2 linked regions of the Homo sapiens genome follow. The protein of the gene in region 1 binds, or shares a complex with, the protein of each later gene. Each region holds a gene or a part of one and is shown in the gene's direction. Other genes may lie near its edges.

Evidence for each region. Proteins that work in one complex are often made in the same cells at the same time.
Region 2: the proteins of NELL1 (region 1) and ROBO3 are in contact, whole or in part, in a crystal structure (PDB 6POL), measured with the Homo sapiens proteins. Residues at the interface, in NP_006148.2 of Homo sapiens: Ala440, Lys441, Met442, His443, Tyr444, His446, Tyr458, Arg468, Val469, Asp470, Asp471, Phe472, Ser473, Asp478, Ile492, Cys493, Thr494, Asn495, Thr503, Cys504, Lys505, Pro506; in NP_071765.2 of Homo sapiens: Ser553, Pro555, Val590, Glu592, Phe594, Pro596, Asn600, Thr601, Trp602, Thr604, Ile624, Leu626, Arg630, Gly633, Ala634, Trp635, Gly636, Leu637, Ser638, Glu639, Pro646, Val647, Arg648.

Annotation. Positions count from the first base shown.
Region 1 is NC_000011.10:21,554,574-21,561,598, forward strand, and holds part of NELL1 (protein kinase C-binding protein NELL1 isoform 1 precursor), read left to right. Parts: intron 1-5,615; coding exon 5,616-5,809; intron 5,810-7,025. UniProt on the Homo sapiens protein: Plays a role in the control of cell growth and differentiation. Promotes osteoblast cell differentiation and terminal mineralization.
Region 2 is NC_000011.10:124,875,432-124,881,996, forward strand, and holds the end of ROBO3 (roundabout homolog 3 isoform a precursor), read left to right. Parts: intron 1-132; coding exon 133-254; intron 255-522; coding exon 523-694; intron 695-750; exon of another isoform or gene 751-843; coding exon 844-1,029; intron 1,030-1,382; exon of another isoform or gene 1,383-1,501; intron 1,502-1,729; coding exon 1,730-1,753; intron 1,754-1,835; coding exon 1,836-1,878; intron 1,879-2,087; coding exon 2,088-2,227; exon of another isoform or gene 2,228-2,321; intron 2,322-2,505; coding exon 2,506-2,700; intron 2,701-2,866; coding exon 2,867-3,005; intron 3,006-3,152; coding exon 3,153-3,365; intron 3,366-3,758; coding exon 3,759-3,910; intron 3,911-4,033; coding exon 4,034-4,144; intron 4,145-4,355; coding exon 4,356-4,517; intron 4,518-4,986; coding exon 4,987-5,177; intron 5,178-5,807; coding exon 5,808-5,819; 3' UTR 5,820-6,040; downstream 6,041-6,565. UniProt on the Homo sapiens protein: Receptor involved in axon guidance during development. Acts as a multifunctional regulator of pathfinding that simultaneously mediates NELL2 repulsion, inhibits SLIT repulsion, and facilitates Netrin-1/NTN1 attraction.

The DNA of each region.
Region 1 (7,025 bases):
TTAAATGAGATTAAATGTATGAGAGAAAAATTATAGAAACAATAGGAACAAGACCAACAATAATAGTGACTAATCATTTTTGAGCAATTATTACATGACAAGCATATCGTTATGTATTTACCCAAATGATTCTATGGAGTATATTTTTATCTACATTTTTCTACATAATGGGACCAAGACTCAGAGATGTTAGGTAAATTTTTAGAGTCGTACAACTAATAAATTGCAGGGATGGACTGGGACAGAGTTGACTCACTTGTCCCTATGGGGCTGGAACTTTCTCAGTTTTAGCACTGAAAGTCAGCTATCTCAGGAACTCCCTCAGTGCCAGGCAAACTGGTATCCGCAGTTTCTGGATTACAAAGGTTAAGCTTTCAATTGGTATGCTATACTTCTTCCACTAAGGAGAAAGAGAAACAAGGACCAGACGTGGAAACTTAGGATATACAAATATTTTTTTAAAATGAGAGACAACTATAAAGTCAATACTTACAGGGCCATATCTGGCTTCTTTGCCCATTGTATCTCCAGCACTTAGCAGTGTATCTGGCATAGAGTAGATGTTAATGGCATAGAGTAGATGTTAAATAAATATGCAGGGAATTCATTTATTCATTGATGAGTACTAGTGACTAGATAATGAAGAGATAATAGGATGAAGAGGGCAATATTATATTCCAGAAGGGTCACAGAGAGAGCTCTTAGACTGAAATAATCAATAACAATATTTGTTATAATACTTTTTAAGCAAGGGTGATGATTTTGCAAACTAGTGGTTATGAGAGACTTCAAGATTTAGCCTTCGAGAAGAGGGTCCCACGGAAGCTTGCACACATTCAGGAGAGAATGAAAATGAGTAAATGCGGATAGTTGCTAATTGTAGATACTAGGAAATAAAATCTGGATCAAGGAAATAGTGAGCCAAAACAGTGTTATATTTTTCCTTTGTCAAAAGAGAGTCTCCTTAATTAAAAGAAAGGGGAAGAGTCATTGCAGAGTAAGAAAATTATACACCAAACAAGGGAACACCATAGGAAAGGGTTTCTTCCTGACTCAGGAAAGGTTTGGGGCTGGAACAGTGAGTGAAGAGTTAATGCTAAAGGGGTATTGAAAATTCTTCCTAAAAGATACATAGCAGCATCTCAAATAGATGAAGCTATCTCTAACTTATCTCTTCCTTTAGTCTTTGTCTTTTCAGGCTGAACATCCTGTGTTTTGCCAAAGTGAGATGAGTTTGAGCTCCTCATCACGCTAATGGATCTCTTCTGATGTGTTCTAACTGTGTCAACCTCATTCTTCATAGTCTGTGTGCTAAAGGGAACACAATATCCAAGTGTGGTATGGCCAGCACATGATAGAGCATGGCTGCCACCGCTTAGCCTGGATTTGAAATTTATTGTGCAGGTTAAAATTTCATTAGCCTTTTATTTTGCAAGTTACATCAGACTTCAGATTCGCTACTTATTTTACTTATTTTGCTAACGTGTAGTGTGTATATTTTCCCCCATAATTTTCTCTCTGCCACTGTAAAAAAAGCAATACTGCTTTAGATATTGGAGAGGGATCTGTTCTCTAGACTGTCTGTCATTAATGAACCCCCAAGCTCTGTTCTCATTTCTGAGCCACTCATAATGATTTCCAGGTAGGAACACACACACACAGCTGTATATTCAAACGCTGGGTAAACTTTTGTTTCTGACACATCACCTGTTTTGAGTTTGAAAATAAGACTAGATGTGCTGTCAAAGTTATTCAAGAAAGAGGAATATGGGGTAATGAAAAAGTTCACTGCTTTGACCTGTTACCAAACTGTTGGTAAAATGTTTACTTTGATTTCTGAAATCAACCTGTAGAAGTATTAGCTCCTGAGGCAAGTACTAATACAGTGGTTATGCTATTAAAAATTTCTGCAGAGCCATTTGGCTTGAAGGGTAGGAAAATTGTTTGCAGCTAGTTTAGGATTGGTTTGATTGCTGCTGTTATAAACATCTCTGAATTCTATTTTCTTACATGCCCAAGTAACCTAAAAACCTCACATCAAAGATGAAAGCAGATTGACTTGGCACAACTAGATTGTTTTAAAGAGCAAAACTGAGTACAATAATAACAGCTTTCAGAAATTGTGAAAATGTTAATGCAAGAAAATTAGTTCTAATGCAAGCTTAGCCATGGAATTTTATTGAAAAAATATTTCATTCGAGCATGAAGCATTTAAATAATGAATTTATAAGAAGAAACACAGAGAGATCACAGCCAGCCATTATTTACAATAAGAAAAACAAGTACATTCTAATGATAATAGATTTGAGTACGAAATACTCAAATACTTCGTGTAATTTTTCTTTCATTGCCTGTTTGTCATTGGGAGGCCTGTCTGATGATTTGGGTAAGTCTCACGGGTGAATAACTTTGTGTTTGCTCAGCAGAGAACAACAGTTGCAATATGTAAATAGGGTGCCTCTTCCCGTTGGCTGCCTTGGGATATGTATAATAGATTAAGTTGGCTTTGTGCAGAGCAAACAGGTCTGTATTACTAAGAATATGAATAATGTTGGTTTCCATAATTGCTAACATCTGGCTTTCCATAAATCTGCTAAATTGCATGGAAACAGAATTAGATTTCTGTGTCATAAGTAAAGCAATTACATGGAACTCTGTAGGCAATATGGTCCTATATTCAACTGTGAAATCTTTTCATTCTGGAGAAGTGAAAGCAAATCCTGGTTTTGCGCCCTGCTTTTATTGTGCACAATAGGTATGTTTATCTTTATGCTCAGCCTTCTTAATTTATGAGAGAAAATCACTACCAATATATTTGCAACTTTGTAAATGCAAAATAACCAAATATTTTAAAAGCATAATATAGCTGGGCATTAGTTGTCAATGTAGATATTTTTTAGAGAAAGCCATAAATTACCAACCCTTTTGTAGCCACTGGTGGTGGATGGGTTGAAGTTATACTTCCAGACAATTTCTGGAGCCATTTGTTAATGCTTCCTCTGCCCTTGTTCTCAAGCATTTGACAGAAAATAAAAGTTTTTTCCTGGGGAAGGGGCAGGGCATTGCCCCTTCTTCAATGTGGTTGCTAATTTGCTGTATTTTTTCTACTTTAAATTAGACCCAAGGGCCTTCACAGATGAGAACTCAACAACAAAATGTGTTCCCTGAAGGGCAGGGTTGTGATTATGCCTTATGCTTGTTGAACACTCTAAAGACCGAGTTTTGGCAAAGTAGGCATTATAATAGTCTCAGTCTGTGGATTTCCTAAGAAAGTTAAATGGAATAAATACATCGAATATCCATATAGTATTCTGTTATACTCAGCACTGGGAAGAGAAAGAAAAATAAAATTTAGTGTCTGCCCTCAATGAGCTCACTCTCTCTGGAGGTAGACAAGTTAAACACGTAACTCCTGAGAGAGGAATGCAGGATAGAATTGTGTATAAGGTACAGAGAAAGCAAAAAATCTGTAGTGACTGTCTTGCCATATAAGAGATGGTGAGGCTTAACCTGAATTTTTAAGACTGCGTAGGAGTGAAAGTAGTACAGGAAGGAAAGTGCTTATCAATTAATTGATTGATACCTCACCTCATTCCCTATAGGACAAGAAAAAGTAGGGAAAGAGAGAGAGTACTCTCATAATAAAAGAAAGCATGTTCTAAGACACAGTTGTTTCATAGGAAACAATATGGCCTCTTTGTGGATCTCCCGTTGCTTTTTAAAAAAAAATCAGTTGACAAATACATTTTATATATATTTATGGTGTACAACATGATGTTTTGAAATAGGAATACATTCTGGAATGGCTAAATAATCAAGCTACATAATATATATATATATATTACCTTATACACTTACTTTTTTGTGACAAAAATATTCTCAATTTTCAAGCATACAATACCTTGTTATTAACTACAGTCATCATGTTTGACAATAGAGCTTCTTGAATTTATTCCTTCTATTTAACTGAAATTTTGTATTCACTGCTTTTGAATGAAAAGGGAGGGGACAAGAGATAACAATTGCAGTATTAGATGGCATTTATATGCTATGCTGGGTTTAAAATTTTTGGAAGACCATACATTGAGTGGGTATAGTGTATATAGAAGATAAATGAGAGAAAAACAAAGTAACATGTCAAAGAATATATAACTGTTACGTGTAAAATGACTAATACATGGTAAGCACTCAACTAAAAAGTAAGAGCTTGGTTTCAAACATTGGTCACCAGACTCCCACATTTAAAACTCCTTTTAGTTGAGAAGAATAAGAGAATTGAAAGAAGATTGAAGAGATAAGAGAGGCTATATGAAAGGAGCACCATATGTTCAAATAGAAATACACTGAGAATGGGATGGGCATGACTAGTAACAGTGAGGAGATATAGTGAGGCTTGATTTTAGTTGACTTACCATACAGGCATCATAATTTGGGATCTTTTCTATAATTTTCAAAGGAGAAATCATTGTTCACTAATGAAATGTCTTGACTAAAGCTAAAATTGGTAAGACAAAGCCAAAAATTAGATCTTGGAAAAAAGTAACTTCTAGAAATATTATTAGAATTTCTTAATGTCATCTGCTTTGTATTGCACCATGTGCAAAGAAACTTGTGCATAGCAGGTAAACCAAAACCAAGTAGACTAGTAGACACTTATTCAATGGCCTCAGACACTAAGTATCAGTACTTCTACAAATGAGTAGAAGTTACTCGGTAGTATATTTCATCTCAATTTAAGGGAGACATTTCCAAAAGAGTTATCCAAAGGTGGAGTCAGGTATTTTGCAAGGTAATGGATTGCCTTTTGGGGAAGGACTTAAGCCAGGGTTGGACAGGTTTGTGTTTGAGATGTTGTTAAGGTCGCTCAAGCTTTAAATGTCAGAATCGGCCGACTGGATTTATGTTTTTATTCCATTGTTGGCTGTCAATAAAGAGCAGGACAATATATTTATGTCTTTCATCAGCATCCATCCATATAGCAATTATTTTTTATGCACGGGCAAATATTCTGCTGGCCATAAGGATAGTAAGACTTTGACTATAAAAGACACCTATCAAGAATTGTTCCCACTTCCTTCAACTTTGGTGGTAGGATCTAGGAGCAATCTGATTGTCTCAAGGTTGCCCAAATTGCCCACTTGTTCCTACTCAGTGGCTAATACATTCACATCTTTTCTAAAAGACTCAGATCTCCATGGTGGTGTGTGCATACTGTTAATGAATTAACAGTGTTTATGGCCTCTGGATGAAATCGTTCTTAAGAATATCCTAAAAGAACTTGCTAACTGCTACTGGATATTTTAGTAATTAGAGTCTGGGAGCTAGCTGTAGATTTGGGTCTCAGATCAGCCACTTACTAGCTCTATGACAGTGGTCATGTTATTTAAGTTATGAACCTCAGCTTCATTATTTGCAGAATAGGAATAAGGACAGATCTCCCACACAGAGCAGAACTGACTTGCAGTGTAAATGAGATAATACATGTGAACAGCTTGGCAGTACCTAGCACAAGGTAAATGGTCGATGATGTTAGTTAATGCTACTGCAAATGATGGTTGTTTGTTCTCTAAGTTCCCTTGGCTAGATTCTAAGCTTCTGTGCTTCCTATATTGCAGACATTGATGAATGTGCCTTAAGAACTCACACCTGTTGGAACGATTCTGCCTGCATCAACCTGGCAGGGGGCTTTGACTGTCTCTGCCCCTCTGGGCCCTCCTGCTCTGGTGACTGTCCTCATGAAGGGGGGCTGAAGCACAATGGCCAGGTGTGGACCTTGAAAGAAGACAGGTGTTCTGTCTGCTCCTGCAAGGTGAGGCTGATGTGGTGCAGCAGAAATTGAAACTGTTCTTTCTCTTCTTCCCTCACTTTTCTACCTCCCCAGCTCTCTCCCTCTTGCTGTTGACTGTAGTTCCTGAACAGGCTTCTCCTGTTCTTATCTACATTACAGCTAATGATGATGCTAAGGGGTAGGGAAGCCTGCTTTGAATTGATTGTGTTCTTAGTGGAAAGTGAGGTATGAGATTGAGAAGGAACTGCAGGGAAGGCGAAGCAGGGTAGAAAAGCCAATGATAGTCCTCCCACTGAAAGCCTACAGTGCTTTTAAGGTTGGTTGGGTGAGAGTTTTAATGAGCCCTCATCCCACGCTTATACAAACTTGCTGATTAAAACTACTCTTTGCCTAAAATAACCACCTGCATGAACTTGCTCACTTTATGACATCATCTAGAAAAGCAAGGCCAACAGACTTGCATCCAGTGCTGAGACAGGTGGATTTTCATTTTGAACAAATGATAATGATAGTATGAGGCCTCTTAGAAATTGATGTCTTCTTTGTTATTCTCAGTGCTGGGCCATTCCTTATATTAAGTTGTTGGAAAGTGAGCTTAATGCTTATGAAAATAAAATTCTGTCATCATTTGGTTTTGCTTTATGCTTTGCAAAATGGGTCTATTAAACTGTTTGATCTCTTTGTGCTTTATTTCTTCTTTTATTGATCTTGCCTATTTATTTTCCTTTGTTATTGCTCTACTGTAGCTCTTGCCTGGTATGTCTATGTCTGTTGGGATGGGACTATTTAATCTTGAGCTTTATGTGCATGGGAACCAAGATAAATTACTTGCTTAGTAGCCTCTTAGCCAAGTCTCCTGATAAATTCCCAGTCTGCTGAAACAGAGCTGAAATGAGCCTTAAGAAATCATCCAGTTCATCCACTTGCCTTCATCTGCCACACATCCACAGACCTGGGGCCACCTAGTTAGGAGGGCCACATTATCAAGTGCTAGATCATTACCCCCAACACCTATTTTTTCCCCTTTCACATAAACCTAGTTTCCCACACTCCAATCTAGGTTTGTTTTCCCTTATTGGAGCACCTGCTATATTTCAGCCACCCTATAATTCAAAAAAGCTGCATCATGTTTACTTCTTACAGCACTACTTTGAAAGACAATGAAACTGAATTTCCATGGGATAAAGTAACTTGCCCTAAATGTTAAAGATATAAATGTCTAAGCTGTGACTTGAAC
Region 2 (6,565 bases), about 100 Mb from region 1:
GTGAGTGGGTGGGAAGGAGGAATGGCTCTCAGTTCCCTAAGATGTTAGAACAGGGAGGGGGAATGTTGGGGCAGGAGGGGCAGCTTGCAATGACTATTTGTGTCCTTCTCACCATGCTCCACCCTGGCCCAGCCCCCAGTGGCCCCCCACAGGGAGTGGCGGTGGCCTTGGGGGGTGATGGCAACAGCAGTATCACTGTGTCCTGGGAACCTCCACTCCCCTCCCAGCAAAATGGGGTCATCACGGAATACCAGGTAGAGGGATTGAGGAGGGACTGGATGGGAGGGCCAGGCCGGGAGGGAGAGGGAGGACCTAGTGGCTAGAATTAGGGTGGAGGAAATCTATTACAGGTTTGGCTTTAGGGTTGGGGATGAGTTTAGGGGAGAAGAGAGAGGTTTCCAAGTGTTGTTTCCAGGTTGAATTACATCTGTATAAGGCTTCTCTACCATTTGGAGCCTTAAGTTTCCCGGTGAGGCTAAGAATCCCATTTCTGACTCTAAATCCGGGACTCGGCCTCCCTAGATCTGGTGCCTGGGCAATGAGAGCCGCTTTCACCTCAATCGATCTGCAGCAGGCTGGGCACGCTCCGCAATGCTCCGAGGACTGGTGCCCGGTCTCCTCTATCGAACCCTGGTCGCGGCGGCCACCAGCGCAGGCGTGGGCGTGCCCAGTGCCCCAGTGCTGGTGCAGCTGCGTGAGTCCACCCGAGGGCAGTGCTGAGGATCTTGACGGGGGCGGGGCAAGCCCCCCACTGGGGTAGCTGTGCCTGCCGGGTCGGGAATGACCCTTTCCCAGTTCCAGGGTTTCGGGCCCCTCCTCCCCTCACTTCTCTGACCCCCACAGCGTCCCCGCCGGACCTGGAGCCCGGGCTGGAGGTGGGCGCGGGGCTGGCGGTGCGGCTGGCGAGGGTGCTGCGGGAGCCCGCCTTCCTCGCGGGCAGCGGCGCAGCCTGCGGGGCGCTGCTTCTCGGGCTCTGCGCCGCCCTCTACTGGCGCCGGAAACAGCGCAAAGAGCTCAGCCACTACACGGGTGAGCTCCCGGCCTCGGAGCGGACGGATCCGGGAGGGAGCCAGGCGGCCCATGGGGAGGGGCAGGGGCTTAGCCGCTGGCGAGTGAGGACCGGGTCGGGAGAAAGGGGTCGCACCTGGAGTTCAGCCTCTTGGGTAGGGGCGGGATACGTGGGGCGACTCGAGGAGCTGCCAGGACTAGGGAGGGCTGCGGGCCAAGACGGGGCGGGATCTGGATGACGTTTGCCTCTAAGACGCCACGAGGAGGCCAGGCTTTGCAACCATCTCCATAAAGAAGGGGCAAGTTCGAGGACGGAAAGCCCACTCAAAGGGCGGGGGGCGGGGCCTGGCAAGAGGGGGTGTGGCCAGGATCCCAGGCAGTAAATTGTGCGGCGGGGTCTGGATGGAAAGGCGGGGCCCGCTGAAAGAAGGCGATCCGAGTTCTGCTACTTCCTAGTAAGGGACGTCTCTGGAGAGATTCTGAGGTGTTTGAGGTCAGTGGTTTTCAATCTTGGTTGGCTACACATAGGAATCACTTGAGGGGCTTGAGAAAAATACCGACACCTGAGTCCCACCCCCGAGAAATTCTGATGAAATGGGTCCAGGGTGCAGCCTGAGTGGTGGAACTGGGACCGGGGCCTAGGCGTGGACAAGTATAGGGGTATTTCTGACCCTTCTCCTCATTTCACCTCTTCTTTCTCCCACGGGTTCCTTTCTGGAAGCCTCTTTTGCCTACACACCGGCAGGTAAGCCATCTCTGCCCCAGTGGGGTTCAGACCCCCCGGGACGGGCCCTTCTCTCACTCATTCGCCCCCTCATTTTCCCCAGTGTCCTTCCCGCACTCAGAGGGCCTCTCTGGAGCCAGTTCCAGGTAATTCTCTTAGCCCATTTCCTCAGGATGACCTCCACCGACAGGCCACTCTTCTTCCGCCCCGCTGACGCCCCAGGTGGAGGGAGCATGGCCACCTCCCACCCCAACACCACCGCCACTGTCCTGAAACTCCCGAATATCGCCACCTCCCTTTCCTTTGCTGGCCTCTTCAGGCTCTCCGTCCCCAACGCTCACCTGCTCTCCCTCAGGCCACCCATGGGCCTTGGCCCCGCCCCCTACTCATGGCTGGCAGATTCGTGGCCCCACCCATCTCGAAGCCCCTCGGCCCAGGAACCCAGGGGAAGCTGCTGCCCTAGCAATCCTGACCCGGACGACAGATATTACAACGGTGAGGAGTTCTCATTCCCTCACCTGGCTTCAGCGCACTTCTCCCGACCTACTGGGGCAAACCGAAGGGCGCCCGGGAGCCCGGTCTCTCTGAGGTTGGTCAGTCCCTGGGGAGGATGTGAGCTGGGGAAGCCTCTCAGACCTACCTCCACCCTGGTTTAGGATGTAAGGCTTGTGTGGGGGAAGAAGTTGATCCCGTGGGATTTCCCTTTGTCTTCCATTCTGTTGTCCTCTATGTTTCTGTCTCTGCTTCCGGGCCTCCCTCTTTCTTCTCTGCAGAAGCGGGAATCTCCCTGTATCTAGCTCAGACGGCCAGGGGCACGGCCGCCCCTGGCGAGGGTCCTGTCTATAGCACCATTGACCCAGCGGGGGAGGAGCTGCAGACCTTCCATGGGGGCTTCCCCCAACATCCCTCAGGAGATCTGGGTCCCTGGAGCCAGTACGCTCCTCCAGAGTGGAGCCAGGGGGACAGTGGTATGACTCCAACTCCTGAAACCCCGTTTAGCCCTGACCAGGGTATCCCCAAAGAGGATCCTCCTCCCTGACCCTCTGGCACCTAGCCCGGCACTTCCTTCTGACCTGTCTCATCTCTGGCTCTTTCCTGCCTGTTCTCCGGGTGTCCCCATCCTATTCTCCTCAGGAGCCAAGGGAGGCAAAGTGAAGCTTCTGGGGAAACCTGTGCAGATGCCCTCTCTGAACTGGCCAGAAGCCCTGCCCCCACCTCCTCCTTCTTGTGAACTGAGCTGCCTAGAAGGGCCGGAGGAGGAGCTGGAGGGCAGGTAGAGATGCTCCCTGCTTCCAGGCCCACACACCTGCGGCCAGACCATGGGCTGCTGGGGAGGAAGGGGAGGGGGCAGCAGGAAGGCCAACGGGAAGGTATGGAAGCAGCTGAGCCCTTTCCTTCTCTCCTGCCTCTTTGATCCCAGCTCAGAGCCAGAGGAGTGGTGCCCGCCAATGCCTGAGAGAAGTCACCTGACGGAGCCCAGCTCCAGTGGAGGGTGCCTGGTCACCCCATCCCGAAGGGAAACCCCCTCTCCCACACCTTCCTATGGACAGCAGTCCACAGCCACTCTTACACCCTCACCTCCTGACCCTCCCCAGCCCCCAACTGACATGCCCCATCTCCATCAGATGCCCAGGTAGGGAGGTATATAGTACCTCACTCATTGCAAGCCCTCTATACGTATCTACTCAGTAGATGACTGGGTGGGTGGATGGATGGATGGGTGGATGGATCTGGGGTACAGAGGTCTCAGGGCTGTGTCAGGGTGGAAGTGTAATTTGGGCAGGAATATGGAGGCTGACAAGATCTCTCATGCCCATTAGACTGGCTCTTGCTGGAGTGGTCAGCACTCTACCTGAGACATTTCAGATATGGCTCTCCTTATGCTTCTCTAGCTTGGGAGGACTTACGGGCGGACGGGTTGTGTCTCGTTTATCTGTTAGGTTGATTGTCTAGCACAGTGCCAGGCACATAGTAGGCATTCAGTTTTTGTGGAGGGAACAGAGGCTGCGGCCTCCTGTCATTGCAGGAGGGTGCCCCTTGGGCCGAGTTCCCCTCTCAGTGTATCCCAGCCCATGCTGGGCATCCGTGAAGCGAGGCCTGCTGGCTTGGGTGCTGGCCCTGCAGCCTCACCCCACCTCAGCCCCAGTCCTGCCCCTAGCACAGCCAGCAGTGCCCCAGGTAAGTCTCTACAACCTCCTTTTGCCCCCCGGCTCCCTCCAGTGCTTGCTTCCCCTTCACCCTTAGGCCTTTTTCCTGATTTTTGCCCTTACCCATTCCTCTTCCCGTCTCCTAACACTGCAGGCAGAACCTGGCAGGGGAATGGGGAGATGACTCCCCCACTTCAAGGACCCCGTGCTCGATTCCGGAAGAAACCCAAGGCTCTTCCCTACAGGAGGGAGAACAGTCCTGGGGGTGAGGGGGGATGCACCTGGGAGATGGTGACAGTAGTGGCGGGGGGATAGGCAGGAAACCAAGGGTGCACTCTGGGGGCTGGAGGAGGGAACAGGTGAACCCCAATCTTGGGCTGTTCATTGGCAGCCTCCTGGTGCCAGGGAATGCAGGTGAGAGAAAGATTAGTGACAGGAGTGGCAGGAGGCTCCGCTGAAAACAGCTCCCTCCCCAGACTTGCCCCCACCACCCTTGCCACCGCCAGAGGAAGAGGCGAGCTGGGCCCTAGAGCTGAGGGCAGCAGGCAGCATGTCCTCCCTGGAGCGGGAGCGCAGTGGGGAGAGGAAAGCGGTCCAGGCCGTGCCCCTGGCAGCCCAGCGGGTGCTCCACCCAGATGGTAAGCAGGGCCAGGGCAGGCAGGAGGGCTGCTGCCACAGGAGACTGTGGGCTTTGGGACTGGGGGCTGATAGTAGACCAGCTCAGCCCTCCCTTTAGTTAGGTTCATGCATTTGATCCACATCAAACTCCCCTGTCTCTCTAACTCTCTGAGCACAATCCCCTGAAGTCCCAAGTTGTGTTCATTCCCAGGATGGAAGCCCAGATAAGAGGACTGGGCTCTAGGTGCTCTGTCCCCGCTCCCCACAAGGCTCCCTCTGATTGGGAGCTCCCCCGCAGCGTTCTGAGCACCCATGATGTCAAGGCCATGTGCCGGTCACTCTGCTGCTCCTCAGCCCCAGGCTGGCTGAGCCCTGTGCCTGCCCTTCATCTTCTTCCAGAGCTGAGCCTGTGGTCAGGGTGGCAGGGTGGGTGACAGGGAAGTTCTGCTTCCTGCCTGCACCTGGCTACCCTTCCCTCTTGTGCTGCAGAAGAGGCCTGGCTCCCATACAGCAGACCAAGCTTCCTGTCCCGGGGCCAGGGCACCAGCACATGTTCCACGGCCGGCAGCAACTCTTCCAGGGGCTCCAGCAGCTCTAGGGGCTCCCGGGGCCCTGGCCGGAGCCGGAGTCGGAGTCAGAGCCGGAGCCAGAGCCAAAGGCCAGGACAGAAACGCCGAGAGGTAGGGGCCATAGATTGCAGAAAAATGAGGGCAGAGGACTAGGGAAGGGTGGACCAAGGCGTAATGGAAAACAGGAAGGTGGGCAAGGGCTTGTGGAGGAGTGTCAAAAGGAGGGGATCGAGAGGGTGAGGGGGAGGGAGGAATCCTGTAGAAGTGACAAGGGGACTGAGCGTGGTGGCTCATGCCTGTAATCCCAGCACTTTGGGAGACCGAGATGGGCGGATCCCTTGAGCTCAGGAGTTTGAGACTAGCCTGGGCAATATGGTAAAATCCCATCTCTACAAAAAATACAAAATTAGCTGGGCGTGGTGGTATGCTCCTGTAGTCCCAGCTACTCAGGGGGCTTGAGGTGGGAGGATAGCTTGAGCCTGGGAGGTCAAGGCTGCAGTGAGCCATGATCACACCACTGCTCTCCAGTCTGGGCGACAGAGTGAGACTCTGTCTCAAACAAACAAACAGACAAACAAAACAAAAGAAATGACAAGGGGTGAGGACAAGATGACACATAATAGAGGAGCCTGGGCTCACCGTAGGAGAACTGGGTTAGGAGAGAGAAAGCCTGAGCCCTTCCTGGACTTGTTTGCCCTGGGCCAGGGTTTTACAAAACAGCATCTCTCTCTCTCTCCCTAGGAACCAAGATGACCCTTGTTGGGGCATTGAGAATATCATGAGTGCCACGGGGAAGGGGAGTAGGGATGTCTTTTCCCCCCCAGCAGTGATGAGTGGGGCTAGCTGAAGCCCATTGGTTTCCACGATTTCAATTGGCTGAGAAGGCAGAGAGCTAGCTCCTCCCTTTCTTTCTTTTTCCACCTGAGACTTGTTTATAAAAAACAAAACAATAAAAAGAGTCTGATCAGAGCCCAGGGCCCTGTCTGTCTGGTTCTGTGCAGCAGGTTGGGAAGAAGGGGACTGCAGGGTCCTGTATATCAACGCACACTGGTAGCTTCTGCTTCCCCTTCCACTCCGTCAAAAGCACTAAGTTAGGCCAGGCACAATGGCTCACACTCATAATCCCAGTGCTTTAGGAGGCTGAGGCAGGAGGATCATTTGAGCCCAGGAGTTTGAGACCAGCCTGGCCAACCTAGAAAGAACTTGTGTCTACACACACACACACACACACACACACACACACACACACACACACACACAAATAAATAAATAAATAAATAAATAAATTAGCCAGGTATGGTTGTGTGCACCTGTCATCCTATCTACTTGAGAAGCTGAGGCAGTAGTATTGCCTGAACCCAGGTGTTGGAGGTTATAGTGAGCTATGATTGTGCCACTGGACTTCATCCTGGGTGACAGAGTGAGACCCTATCTCAAAAACAAACAAACAAACAAAAAACTGAAAAAACACTAGGTGGGGACTGTACCGTCCTGCTTCT